2 separate regions of the Homo sapiens genome follow, and region 1 is linked to region 2. The links come from fine-mapping of genetic effects on gene expression. Tissue or cell type: sun-exposed skin. Region 2 holds a variant in brackets; the other region holds the start of a gene. All regions are shown on one strand. Distances are between the middles of the regions.

The links. PIP is the estimated chance that this variant, and not a neighbour inherited with it, causes the effect.
Region 1: P4HA3 starts here. The variant in region 2 is the best candidate, but not a certain one, in a credible set for the expression of P4HA3 in sun-exposed skin (GTEx, PIP 0.66).

Annotation. Positions count from the first base shown.
Region 1 is chr11:74,308,212-74,315,150 of GRCh38, forward strand. It overlaps P4HA3 (prolyl 4-hydroxylase subunit alpha 3), which reads right to left and starts at 3,429. Exons shown (of 13, transcript NM_182904.5): 1 at 3,201-3,429. The coding sequence starts at 3,400. It overlaps P4HA3-AS1 (P4HA3 antisense RNA 1), which reads left to right and starts at 3,151. Exons shown (of 7, transcript NR_120556.1): 1 at 3,151-3,238; 2 at 3,614-3,735; 3 at 3,908-4,008.
Region 2 is chr11:74,069,084-74,076,431 of GRCh38, forward strand. It overlaps C2CD3 (C2 domain containing 3 centriole elongation regulator), which reads right to left. Exons shown (of 33, transcript NM_001286577.2): 24 at 5,170-5,517. Among named protein-coding and RNA genes, the nearest start is that of UCP3, 64 kb to the left of the region's middle. RefSeq lists an enhancer at 3,488-3,557. The variant A/T (reference allele first, on the strand shown) is at 3,350.

The DNA.
Region 1 (6,939 bases), 240 kb after region 2:
TTTAAAAGGCAAACATAAAGGCTGGGCACGGTAGCTCATGCTTGCAATCCCAACACTTTGGGAGCCCGAGGAGGGAGGATCACTTCAGGTCAGGAGTTCAAGACCAGTCTGGGCAAGAGAGCAAGACCCCGTCTCTACCAAATCAAACCAAACCAAACAAAAACAAAAACAAAAAAACCCTAGCCAGGCATGGTGGTGTGCACCCGTAGTCCTAGTTACTTGGTAGGCTTAGGCAGAAGGATCACTTGAGCCAGGGGTTTGAGGTTATAGTGAGCTATGATAGAGCCACTGCACTCTAGCCTGGGTGACAGAGCAAGACCCTGTCTCTTAAAAAGCAAACATTTCACTGGGTTTTAGAGCAGTCACTAGAGAACAGAATGACAGAATGACAGTCTTCAAAATATCAAACTAAACTACAAAATTAACTGTTCATAAGTCACCTGAGAAAATAATTGAGAACTTTTCTGATTTGTTTTTTTATCTAGGCTGTCACAATCCTAGTTAATACTTAGAGCCAAAAGTGGGGCCTAGTTTCACTAGATGGTCTTAAAATAAAATAAAATAAAATAATAAGCATAAAGGCTTAGCATTTGTCCATCAATTGTTACATGCCAGGTACAATGATAAAAACTTTTACATGGTACTCTTAATCCTTCCAAAAACCCTATGGTGGTAGGTACTATTTTTATCATCATTTTACAGATTAGGAAACTAAAGCTCAAAGAGGTAAAGTAACTTGTCCAAGATCAGAGCCAACGATTCAAATAGAGGTCTGTTAAACTCCTGAATTCACTGTTAACCACCATGTACTGTGGCCACTAGTAAAACCTCAATTAGTTAGGGGCTTGGTCTATGTCTTGGTATAACAGATAAAAGAAGTGGTAGGGATAACATAGCATAGTAGGAAAAAAGTTGGATAAACAATCAAAACAACTGTGTCCTAGTCCTGGATTTGCTACCTATTAGATTTATTAATACAATCTTGAGTGAGCAACTAGACTTTAGTTTTCTCATGTTTTAACTGATTTCTCAATAGTTAACAAGTGTAATACAAATCTATTTCAAAGCATTGTGTGTGAGAGAGAATCAGATGAGATATGGTTTGTATGAGACCTCCTGCTGTGACAAAGTTGTGATAATGACAGTGGTGGAAAGACAGTGAAGGAGACCAGCATGGTGGAATGGGGTTGGCCAGCTGCTTTGGCCAAAATGCTTCAAGTGCTCTCTTCTGAGAATGTAACCTGAAAGACCAGCAGGGGGATTTTGACCCCCCACTCCCGTCTCCATCTGAGCTACCCAAAGAGATTACTGGTATGAGAACAAGCATGGGTAGCAGGGAGAATGCTGGGCTCTGAAATCAAAGAGAAAAAATTCTGTCCTATTTCCACTAATAAGCTTGGACTCCAATGACTCTGGGCTATGAACAAAAAGAAAACATTTGGCTCGGTCAACATGGACCCATAGAATACTAGACAACTATGCTATTCCAAAGAGTGACAATAATTATTGAAATGATCTTCATTTATTGTTAAAATTAATACATACCTATATTGTATATTGTCACACTATTTCAAGCTGTTTATACGCAAGCCACATACTTAAGGACAAGCACCACATTAGCTCATTCAGTCACTATTAACAAGATCTCTCGCAAATACTTTCCACCCACAAAATGCTTCTCTTCTACATAGCTCTCTCTCACAGTCATGGGGTCACAAAGTTTCGCACAGGGTGACAATGGGTTTGGGGGTCACACTGGACCTCAGAGTCACTCCCCATTCCACATACCTTCTTCTCATGTCACCCCAGAATCAGTATTATTACCACACACACTCACGCAAAGTTTTAAAAGCAGTGCATTGTGCTGTCTTTGCTCAATGATAAGGTCACATGATATAAGTACAATATTAATATATCCAAATAGTGACGTGGTCATAACCACTCTGTCAGTGTTGTAGGCTTCTTGATGTCCCAGGCAGAGAAGGCGCAGCACATATTCATACAGATGGTATCATATACAATCATTTATCTTTCATTTTTGTCAGTTGGACACTGCTAAGTCGATACATGACTATGGTGCCTCAGCATCCCAAGTCTGACAACCTTTTATGCCACAGTGTGTAGCACTAGAGTTTGTTGACTGTACCCCAAAACTATATTAGCTGAGCATCCACTGCTGTGTGCTACACTCAGTATCTTCTGCATCAAGTATGTTTTTTCACAGTGCTTTTTTGATATCAAATATGTTGACACACATATAACATCTCAGTTATCATTTATTTAGTATTTAGAGAGCTTCTACATGTGTAAAGAGAAGGAAGAACTGAAGACGTAGACGGCAGTGGACATCTCTGATTAACAGTCATGGTGCTACAGACCCAAACTCCTCGAGGGCAGAGTTGGCTCTTGATCACCATTTTATCCCCACTGCCTGGAACACTGCCTGGCTCTTAGTAGGCACTCAAAAATATGTGTTGTATGAATTAATGAACTGAAGCATTATTCATATAGCGACCTGTACAGTTACTCAGCATCATTCACATGCAGAGTATGATATCCACAGTGTCGTGCCCATCCAGTCCCAATGACATGTAAACCTCACATATGGTGGAAGACTGTCACCTGACTCCTAACACTAAACATCAGCTCACTAGGTCATGCGGTGTTTCACGATCCCCCCTTGAAAGGTCAATACTTGCGTAGCTAAAGCGTCACCGTATTCTCTCCATGTCACTCTCACAGTGTCTCTGTCACAGCACCGTCCACTGTGTCTGTGTCAGTGTGACACAGGGCCTGGGGCTCACACAGCTTTGCACAGCACATTGTGAGGTCCTAGAGTCACCCCGCCCCGCTCTTCCACAGTGTATCAACTTTGCTGTGTGACGCTGGATATGGGGGGTGCCACTATGTGTGTGATGGAGTCTGCAGTCCCAGTGTGACCCAACCCTCGCCAACACCTCATGCCACGGAGTGTCAGGGTCCCACACAGGGTGACAATGGGTCTAGGGGGTCACACTGGCCCTCAGAGCCACTCCCCACCCCATGCCACAATGTCTCAGTCGCACGGTGCGACAGTGGGTCTGGGGTCCCACGCAGCATGACAATGAGCCTGGGGTCACACTCAACCTGAGTCACCCCACCCTGCGGCACAGTGTATCCCACTGAGGCCCCTCGGTCGCTCCCACTCGTCGTGCCCTCACCTAGTCAGGTCCCGCAGCCGCGCCTCCTCCCCGCGCAGGTACCGCCTCAGCAGCCCCAGCAGCCGGCGCTCGGGCGCCAGGGCGCGCGCCACGCTGGTCAGCGCCGAGAACGTGTCGCCCCGAGCCGCAGCCCTTTCTGGGTCTCCTGTCCCGAGCGCCAGCACCGCCAGCAGCGCCGCCAGCCGCGCCCCAGGACCCATAGCCAGCGCTCGCGAACTTCCCCTCAGACAGTCCTGGCCGCGCGGCGGCAGCCGCTCCCGCCCTCGCCTGCCCCGCCCCTGTCTCCGCCCCCTCCCGGCTCAGGCCCCGCCCTCTGGCCCCGGCCCGGCCCGTCCCGTCCACCGCCCAGTCTCGCTCCACGCCCCCTGACTCCTTCCTTGTTTCGACGCCTCACCTCGCTCTCTATTCCTCAGCTCCTCGGAATGCGTGGGGGCTTCCTGCAACATCAGTCTCCGCCGCCCTCCACTAAATCGCGACCCTGGGAAGGTGTTTCCACTGTGCCCATCACACTAGGGGAAATTGAGGCGGAGGCAGGGTGAGCGATGAATTCACAGGTCTAAGGCTGTGACTATCCCCAAATATTGTTAACACCACGCTCACAGGATCCCCAAAATATCCGCCCCTCTGTACCATGGAGTGGGAATACACAAACACCACTGGATCCCCACAGGGACGTCCAGAAGAGTCAATTATGCGTATGTGAATAGGTGCGCAGGCAAAGAGCGGCAAGAGGACAGCTGGGAGGAAAACCCTCACAGAGAGCGTGACATCTGAGCCATCTGAAGGATAAGTAGGACTGTGTCAGGATGTGAGTATATGACAAATCTAGGACTTACAGAACCTGAAGCTCTGGGGTCCTAAAGTCACTGCTTTACACAATATACTTAGAGTCACTTAAGCAAATAAAAATATTATTATTATTATTATAGCCTACTAGGCTATGTACTCTATTTCCCCCCTCTTATGCATTTCCCAGGCAATGTTCATTCATGCAACAAATATTTATTAGTACCTGTGTTACTGTGCTGCCTACACAGAGAAATAGCAGATCCAATCCTGGACTCAAAGGAGGAGACAGTTATGTAAACAAGTAATCACAATAAAGTGCTGTCAGAGTAACTGAGGGTTGTGCAATATGCAATGGCAACACTGAAGAAGGAACCCTCATGTAGTGGGTGGAGAGGGCATCAGAGAGGAGGTGATGGGTGCTGGTTCAAAAGGATGAAAAAAATTGGAAGTTGACAGGCAAGGGAGGAGTGGGCTTTCCTGGCAGAAGGTACATGGGCGTGACAAGGTTTGGAGGTGGAAAACAGTTTGAGTTCCAGAAATGATGAAAAGTTTCTTGTGCTTGAAACTATCAGATTGTGAAAGGTCTTTGCATGTCATACTAAGAAATTTAGGTGCTTGTCCTCTATGAAAATCCAGTGGAAGTTTTTAAGGTAGCAATAATTGTAATAACAATGGCAACAGTAAACATAGTAGTTAATACTTACCGGGTGTTTCCTGTGTGGCAGTCGCCATCCAGAGTATTTTACATATATTAACTCATTTAATCGCTGTCCAGAGTATTTTACATGTATTAACTCATTTAATTCTCATGCTGACCCTATAGCCTAAGTAATATTAGTATTCTTACAGTATTATTGGCCCCACTTTACCGATGAGAAGACTGAATTGTAGGGACAATCATTAACCTACTCAGTGTTAATCACTTGTGGACCACATTCGAGGTGTGCTGGTAAACCAGCTCTCCAGGAAAAAAATAAAGTTCTGGTTTGTGGCATTTGCCAATTTCTGTGGTGTCAATTCTCCCACAGTGGCTAATTTCGACATGCAAAAATGTCACCACTGACTGTGGTTGGATAAAGATGCCAACAACTCCTGTGAGCTGGGGTGAGCCAGCTCCAGCACACCACTGCTTGTGTAGACATGAGATGTAACATGCAGATCCCCCTTCGAAGAAGGACTTGTTGCACAGCTGCAGGGTATGTGATGAGAAGAGTATCCAGTGGTCAGCTGCTTTAGGGTCTGTCCTATAGCAGAGAGCAGTCTCGCTTAGGGAAATGTCCTTCCTGGAACAGCCCTAATCCAGCAATGGAGCAAGGTGAGGGAATCAAGGCCTAGCCATTTTGGCCCATCGTGAGACAATTCTTACAGGAAATACTAGCTCCAGCGCACCTGCCACCTTGATCAAGGCTTTGTCAAGCCTCTTTGACTTCTTCCTCTGCCTTTTCCTGCTTCCTTTCCCTTTCGTAGATGCTGATCTCTAATAAACATCTTGCACCTCAAACTCCAGCTGTGCCTCTGCTTCTAGAAAACCCAATCTGTAACATCAATTCAATCAACATACATAGTAAGTGGTAGAGAAGGGACTTGAACCCAGGTCATGTGGATCCTGATTCCATATTCTTAATCAATACCAGAGGCAGATTTACCTAGAAGGTTTTGAAGCTTAAGCTTCAAGGCTCCTAGCTTGCACAAACCCTTTCTAACTGAGTAGCCTTCCCATAGAAGGTATTCTGACCATAGAAGATTAGGGACTGTGGTAGGCAGAATCATGCCCTCCCTCCAAAGATGTGCATGTCTTGATTCCCAAAACCCATGACTGTGTTACCTTACATGGCACAAGAGACTTTACAGATGTGATTAAGTTAAGGATCTTGACATTGGAGGATTATGCTGGTTTATCTTGGTAGTCCCGATGCAATCATGAGGGTCCTTAAAAGTCATAGAAGGAAATGTGACAATGGAAGCAAAGTCAGAAAGATTTAAAGATACTTAGTACTATATTGCTGACTTTAAAGATGAAAGAAGAGGCCACCAGTCAAGGATTGTGAACCGCTTCTAGAAGCTGGAAAGGCAAGGAAACAGGTTCTCCTCTAGTGCTTCCAAAAGGAACAGAGACCTGCTGACACGTTGATTTTAGTCCAGTGAAACCCATTTCAGACTTCGGAACTCCAGGGCTGTAAGACAATATATGTGTTGTTTTAAGCCACTGTGTTTGTGGTCATTTGTTTCAGCAACAGTAGGAAACTGATAAAGGAACCCAAAGGTATCTGCTTTGTATTGTCTCTGTCTCTTTAGCCCAAGTGGGCAGTACTTCTATTGATAAAATCATCTTAAAACCTTTGAGGATTTCCTGTAAATCTTATTGGAGTTCTTTCCGTTAGACAAAAACCATATCTATATTTCTTCCCAAGAAGTGCCCTTCTCTAACTTGGGCTGAGACTCAGGGTTGTGGTACAACAGTCTTAAAAGTCTTTTTATTTTTTTAGAGATAGGGTCTTGCTCTGTTGCAAGGCTGGAGTGCAGTGGCACGATCACGACTCTCTATAGCCTTGAACTCCTGGGCTCAAATGATCCTCCTGCTTCAGCCTCCTGAGTAGATGGGACTACAGGCACATGCCACCATGCCCAGCTCATTTTTGTATTTTTTTAGAGACGGTTTCACCATGTTGCCCAGGCTGGTGTCGAACTCCTGGCCTCAAGTGATCCACCTACCTTGACCTCCCAAAGTGCTGGGATTACAGGTGTGAGCCACCATGCCCAGCCAGCCCTAAGATTCTTAGAAGCATTTTTTTTTCCTGGTTGAAATATAAGGTACACCCATAAGATTCTTAGAGACCTTCTACAAAACCACAATATAACCACCAATATTAGGAAACTAACATTGACAAAATACTAATACCTCGAGTCCACATACCTTCTTCAAATTTTCTTGATTGTACCATTTAAATGT
Region 2 (7,348 bases):
CACTGCGTCCGGCCATCCTCCAGTTTATTTTTAAAGCTGCTATTTGCTAAAGGCCTTGAAACAAAACTATTTTGACTTTGGAAGAAGATAGTTCCTTATTTAGTCTTGAACAGACACATTCCTTTTAGCCAAACAGGTGGGTGAAAAAGAAATCAGCTTGGGAGAGCAGGTCTATCAGGTTTCTCTGGCTCTCCTCTTGTAGGTGGAAATTCATCTGGGCCTGTTTACATTCTGAAAAAGGTCAAGTTCTGAAATACTTTTGGAAGCAGCCCAAAAGAAGGCTGCTATACCCCCCACAGGGTTGGGACACACATTAAGAAGACCTGAGGTGAACCAGTTATGCCATTTAAGAATTTTATGCATCAAGAAAGGTGTAATTGTTTCAGTGAGATTAAAATAACAACTTCTCATATTTAGATAATGCGTTACAGCTTGCACACTGTTTTCTTACACACTAAAGTTGTGCTGATAACGTCTCTGAAAATCGCATAAGATAGGCATCTCTATCCCTATTATAAAAATAAGGCAACCAAGGAACAGAGAAGTGGCTTGCTCATCACATACCTGGTTAACTAGCATTGAGAAGAACCACGGTTTCCTGACTCGTACTTTAGATTTTTTTCCATTGCAATCATTCTAATTATCTCCATCTGGTTAAGAGAAGTGCTCTCCCTTTGGCCTGGAGTGAATGGATGGAAACTTCCCCCTTAAGCAATGTCCAATTTTTTATGTTAATAAAAACTTAGCCCAGCAGGTGTATTAAGCTAACATTAGCTGACACCTCCTCTGTGTCACACCTGTACAAGGTGAGTCAGATTTGATTCTTGATCTGCGGGAGACAAACACAGACAGATAATTACAACCCAATAAGATAAAGACTATGCTAAAAGCACATGGGAACCCAGAGGTGTCCTGAACTCTGCCTTGATGGGCTAAAGAATGCCTCTAAAAGTTGATAATATTGAAGCTGATTTTACTTTTTACTGAGTATAACTTATGCTACTTCAAATCATTTTACCTCTCTGTTCCTTATTTGTCTCATTTGTAAAACAGGGCTAGAAATACCTGTTTTGTCTAATATAAGTATACAAACCTTAAGAGTATTGAAGCTGATCTTAACCGAAGGTTCCTCAGAGCTTTTTCTAACATAAGTATCCAAGAAGTTCTTTTATTTTCAGAACCAGGACTACAGTGGTGACCACAGACCATTTCAGAGCTGCTTCAGAACTCAGCTTTGCTGAAGGCAAAGCTCCTAATTTGGGGCTGTTTGTGAATCCTCTGCATAAAGGTTTGCATGAAGGAACCACTCATTTCCTTCCTTAAGAAAGAGCTTCCAAGGCATAAAAAGGACAGACACTCTGAGAACACTATTAAGGCAAGAGGAAAGTCAGAAGTACAGAGTGTAGAATCATGGTCTCCTACCAGAAAGTTTCTGTCGCCTGTTCTCCATTCTTGCTGCCACCTTGCTTGTTTAGGCTTCAGAACTTGAACTAATGTGACGGCCCTCTCAGTGATTGCTGCTTTCGGTATTCTCCAGTATCTTTTTCATACTGCCACCAAGATTTCATGTCTGGTCAACAAATATGACCTTGCCTCTCCACAGATTAAGATTTTGTTGGTTTCATCTCACCTGCAGTGTCAGTCATGTAGCATACAAAATGCTGCCTATGTAGCCTAATTAGTCTTTCCAGCCCCATTTCTCACTACTTTTTACTCACATTTAATGACCTTTTTTTGGCCAATGTCCCATTCTCTCATACTACCAAGCTTTTGAGCATGCTGTTTCTTCTCATTAGAATGCCTTTTTCCTCTTTCATTCAGCAAACTTGCTCCTCCTCCTTCAAGAGTAGGCTAAAGTGACACCAATACTTGGAAGCCTGCCCTGACCACCCCATTAGCAAAAAAATGCCCTCTGTGTTCTCAAAGTTTTCCTATACTACCACATCCACCTCCCCACAGCTTTCCTCTTTCATATCGTTTATTCCTCTGTACTAAAAATGTTAACATGTCTCTCCATTAGGCTGTTCCTTGGGGACAGGGACTGTGTGTTGTTTGTTTATCCCAGCACTGTGATCTTCATGATGCAGCAAAGCAAACATAATGTCCTCCTGTTTTATGAATATGAGACATAACGCCTCTCACATTTCTGGCAAGAGTTGCAGACCTGTAAATCACTTGTTATTTAGCCTCTTTCTGTTTAGCCAGGTCAAGGCAAGCATAGGGTAGACATCTGACTTTCCAGACGTCACTGTTGTATCCTGATTTCCACCCTGCAGTGATAAGCCCATGCAGTCCTTCCTCCCACAGACATTTATGTGTCAGTCAGGCACTGTGCTGAGCATAGAGTGTAGACCTATAGTATAGAGATCTGCCCATTGTCTCTTTGAGTATAGACCTGCCCATCTGGTTCTGCAGAGCGCATTAACTATGTAACTTCAGGTCATTTTACCTTTTTGAACTTCGGTCTCCTCATTTGTGAAATGATTATGTATTGTAATCTCTTCAAACTATAATCCTGCTCGTGGCAAGGATTAAAGGGGATACAGGGAATAACCCTGATCTGAAATGCTTGGGGCAAGAGGTATTTCAGATTTTGTAATATCTGCATTATACTTATTCAGTATGCCAAATCTGAAAATCTGAAACCTGATATATTCCTATGAGCATTTCCTTTGAGCACCAAGTTGGTGCTTTTGGATTTGGGATACCTAACCCATAATTAATGTACAAAGACTAGAATAGAACTCAGCACACAGCAGATGATGCTCAATAAATTATTATAAAATTTTGCCAAGTGATATTATAAAACTGTAATTCACTGTCTCATTGAAAATTTGTAAGTATATTTTGCTTTTTTTTAACAATATGGGAATTCTCCTAAAATGTAACATATACCATATCTTTTGTATATTAAATTTTATTTTCAATGCAACTACAAAAAAAAACTTTCCAAAAATAAAAGAAGCTTTTTAATACTTTCCTTAAACTCATTCATCTATTGATTTTTTTGGTCTTTAAAAAAAATTTGTCAAAAATGGCTGCTTTGGTGGGGCAGAAAATTTTTTTTTCTTTAAAAACAAGTAAAAATTGTTCAATTTTGTGATTCACACTGCACTTGAAGAAGACTTTGTCCTGATATAGAATGTTTCAAGGTTTCTGATACACAATGGCTGAAATGGATGAGAACATCAAGGATCATTATGGAAGCTTATAATCCCAGGAGTAATGGCTGTTGGTAGTATAAACGGGGAGGAGTAGGAATGAGAGATAAATAATAGTTACTATGAGCACAGGTTTTGTTTCTGTTCTAAAGTAGTAAGGACACATGACACAGTTTGAGAGACACCAA[A/T]ACAGAGATGACAGGAGCCAAACAGAGAGGTCAAATCTGAATCAAATGATGTATATTGAAACTTTCTGGATTCATAAGGCCATGGTTGACTGGCTCTCATAGACACCACACATCTGAACATTGTTAATCACAGCCATTTACAGATGAGAAATTCAAGACAGAGAGAAAGAATACCTTGCTCAAAGTCACACATATGTACACATACAATTTATTGGCTAGGGACACAGGGATAAATATATTCCTACTAGAATGTAATCTCCACAGGGCACAATTTTTGTCTGTCCTTTTTTTTTACTGTTTTATCCCTGGCACCAAGGACAGGGCTTAGCATGTAGCAAATACAGTAAGTTTTGTTGTAAAATAAATGAATGCATGATGAATGAACAAATGAGATGAGGTCTTTGCTTTTGAACAGTTCATATCTAGTTGAAAAGAAAACCATGGAAACAACTGCAGTACTGTGTGACATATGATATGATACAGGGGCAAAGTGCCAGGGGAGCAAATAGAAGGGGGCCTTTATATTGGGAAAGCCCTCCAGGAAATGGTGATGCCTGAGCTGGGTCTGAAGAGAGGAGCTGGAAGTAGCCAGGCAAAAGAGAAGGGTGACGGCAAAGGGGAAATTTTAGGAGATTACAATGCTGAATAAAGGTAGGGCAGGAATTCTTTGTGCCATGGACTCTGGCAATCTGGCAAGGTCTATGGGCCTCTTCTTTTAACAGTGTTTCTTTAAAATGCATAATGTAAAACACATAGGATTACAGAGAAATCCAATTATATTTACATAGAGTTATCAAAACTAAAAGAACTTTGTGATATAGTAATATATGTGCTTTAGTAACAAGGTCTAACTATAGGTAATAACTACTGTAGGTCTGGCACAGTGGCTCACGTCTGTACTCCCAGCACTTTGAGAGGCTGAGGTGGGTGGATCACTTGCGGTCAGGAGTTCGAGATCAGCCTGTCCAACATGGTGAAAACACATCTCTACTAAAAATACAAAAATTAGCCAGGAGTGGTGGCACAAGCCTGTAATCCCAGCTACTCAGGAGGCTGAGGCAGGAGAATTGCTTGAAGCTGGGAGGTGGAGGTTGCAGTGAGCCGAAATCGTGCCACTGCACTGCAGCCTGGGCGACAGAGCAAGACTTTGTTTCAAAAAAAAAAAAAAAAAAATCAAAACAAACAAAAAAACCCCCCTAACTATTGTAATTTCAAAGAAATCATAGTTATAAGTGATATTCTAAGATATCTGCAATAATGATGTGATATGGAAATACCTGTGATTTCTATTGTTGACAATATCACAGGTACTATTACTAGGATCTACTGCCTATATTCATAATGAGAGGAAATATGTTAAATTTTAGCTAGAGGTTGCTAAAAATAAAGATGTAATTATTTTCCTATCCAAGGCCACTAACCCGGAGTTTGAACTTTTCACGGATCCCTTGGATGTTTAAGGACCCAATGTTAAAAACACCTGGCCCTAGGTGCATTAGGAAGGCCTGAGTTGGCAGGAATGCAGAAGGAAGAAATCTGAGAAATTTAATAAAGAACAAGTTAGGGATCCGATGATTTGACAGTGGATAAGGAAAAGAGAAGTATCTATCTAGGTTGAGACTCAGGTGGCTGGACTGGGGAATTTACGATATGCAACAAGTTCAGAAAAGCTTTCATGTTGCTTAAACCTTTAGGCTTGAGAAATAAATATTTATCAGTTGAGATAATTAACAGATCCTGCCATGATTTGAAAGATTTGTGAAGAAAGGAGCACACCCTGAAGAGTTAGACATGCTCCTGGGTAGGTGAGGAGAGCATACCTTTCAAGCTCAAGTGCATTGCTCTTTCTACTAGGATGCTGACTGCAAACGTTCCATCCAAATCAGCAGGGCCCTCCTGCGTCAGGCGGACTTCAGCTGTGGTGCTGCTGCAGGGGACCTGGGTGGAGGCAGGAGACTTCTGGTGGCAGGAGATGACTTCTGGTGGAGAGAGCTGGACCTCATCATTCCTTCTGGGGAGCTGCTCAGACTCACTGTGGCTGCTGCAGTCCATGGAGTCCAGCTCATGAGTGGGCTCAAGGTGTGAGGAAAGAGAGGAAAGAACCACATGAACTCGCAAGGCAGCTCCTGAGAGGTTGGAAGCATTTCGTCCAAACAGAGGATACACACCTAAAAGAAGATGGAGAAGAATAAGGCTAGTCAAGCAGGAACCAAGACCAAGCTTGGAGGAAATACTCACTGAGGGTGCTGTGGTCCTTTCTCCTTTGAAAGGTCTACAAACCCCAATACAGCAATTTGCAAAAGAAACTATGAAGCTGGTAGAAAACATGAAAACTTTTACCCTGCCCTAACTATCTTCAATAATGAAAAGTAGGCTGAGTGTGGTGGCTCACACCTGTAATCCCAGCACGTTGGGAGACTGAAGTGGGCAAATTGCTTGAGTCCAGGAGTTCAAGAGTTTGGGCAACATGGTAAAACCCTATCTCTACAAAAAACACAAAAATTAGCTGAGCATGGTGGTGTGTGTCTGCAGTCCCAGCTACTCAGGAGGCTAAGGTGGGAGGATCACCTGAGCCCAGGAGGTTGAGGATGCAGTGAGCCATGACTGCGCCACTGCACTCCAGCCTGGGTGACAGAGCAAGACTCTGTCTCAAAAAACAAAACAAAATAAAACAAACAAACAAAAGTAATGAAAATAGTAAGATCTCTGATTTAAAGCCAAAGCCAAATGACTACCAGGCAGAGCTGTTGTGGAAGGGATTCATGCGCTGAGAGGCAACAAGACTTAGAGAAGTCTAAGATTTGATGAAATCAAGAGTGGTCTATTTTCTCTTCCTCGTGTCTCATGGGCTCCTGTTTTTCGACCTTCTCCCTATCAGGAGGCTGTCTTGACACTCAATTTAGCTATGTTTCACTAGGGTTCGGGCGATATTTTGGGGGGGGGTGGGGGGAAGTAGGAGGTTAGCAGGAGACCAGAAATAAATACAACGGAGTTAATATTTGTTGAGTGTTTTTCATAAGCCAGAATCTCAGAGGAGTTAAATAAACTGCCAACATCACTCTGGCAGTAAGTGGCAGATTTAAGCCCAGAGACTTGAATTTTACTAACTTGCTGAATATTAAAATGAGATTTATAAAACAGAAGGAACTAATAGTTCCTTCTGAATCTCAAAGTTTGCTTCATTAGATTCACTTCAATTCAGGAAAATGGAGTTAACTGATTCATAGATGGCAATAATATGAAACCTTTCCTGTTTTAGATAACCAGTTTTCTTCTCAAAGCAATGTGTAAATTATTATGATTATCAAAGGAAAATAAGGGCAGGTCATTACAGGTGGGAAGACACCCAAAAGCAACACAGTTAAATCCTTATCCTCAGGAAAATGAATAAAACATGGAAGTAAGGTTGGATGGATGGCTTGACGCATTCAACAAACACATCAAATGACATGCCTTGTATAAGACCCTTGCACAAGAGGATAAAAAGCTCAGACAAGAGGGATATGGAGAAGTATGAGAGAAACGGATGATCTGAAAAGCTAAATACTACCTTTGGTAGCACTCAATAAAAAGAAGTATTTGTGCTTGAGTTCCTATACTTAGATCTATATTCAGTGTCCTAAACCTACTTTCTTCAGCAGAATGAAGCTAAAAGCCTGTCTTTATAAACTTTAGTTTAAGTGAACTTGGTTCACTTCAAGGACATTTTCTGTAGTCCCTTTGAAGGGACTCTAGGCCTGCCCAGATAAAACAGAGCACATGGCATTTGATGTGCTCAAGAGAGCCAGATTTACACCTGTTAGGTCCAGAAAGAACCAGAGAATTTGGGATGATCACCTAGATACACTCAGTTCTCCTCTAGCCTGGCCCACCCACTCAACAACAGGGTCAGAGCACAGGGCTGATAGGGCTAACAAAGGGTCATGACTCAGTTTCTTCGACTGTAGAGTGGGGGAAATAACAACTAACTGGACAGCAATGTTAAGCTGAATAAAGATC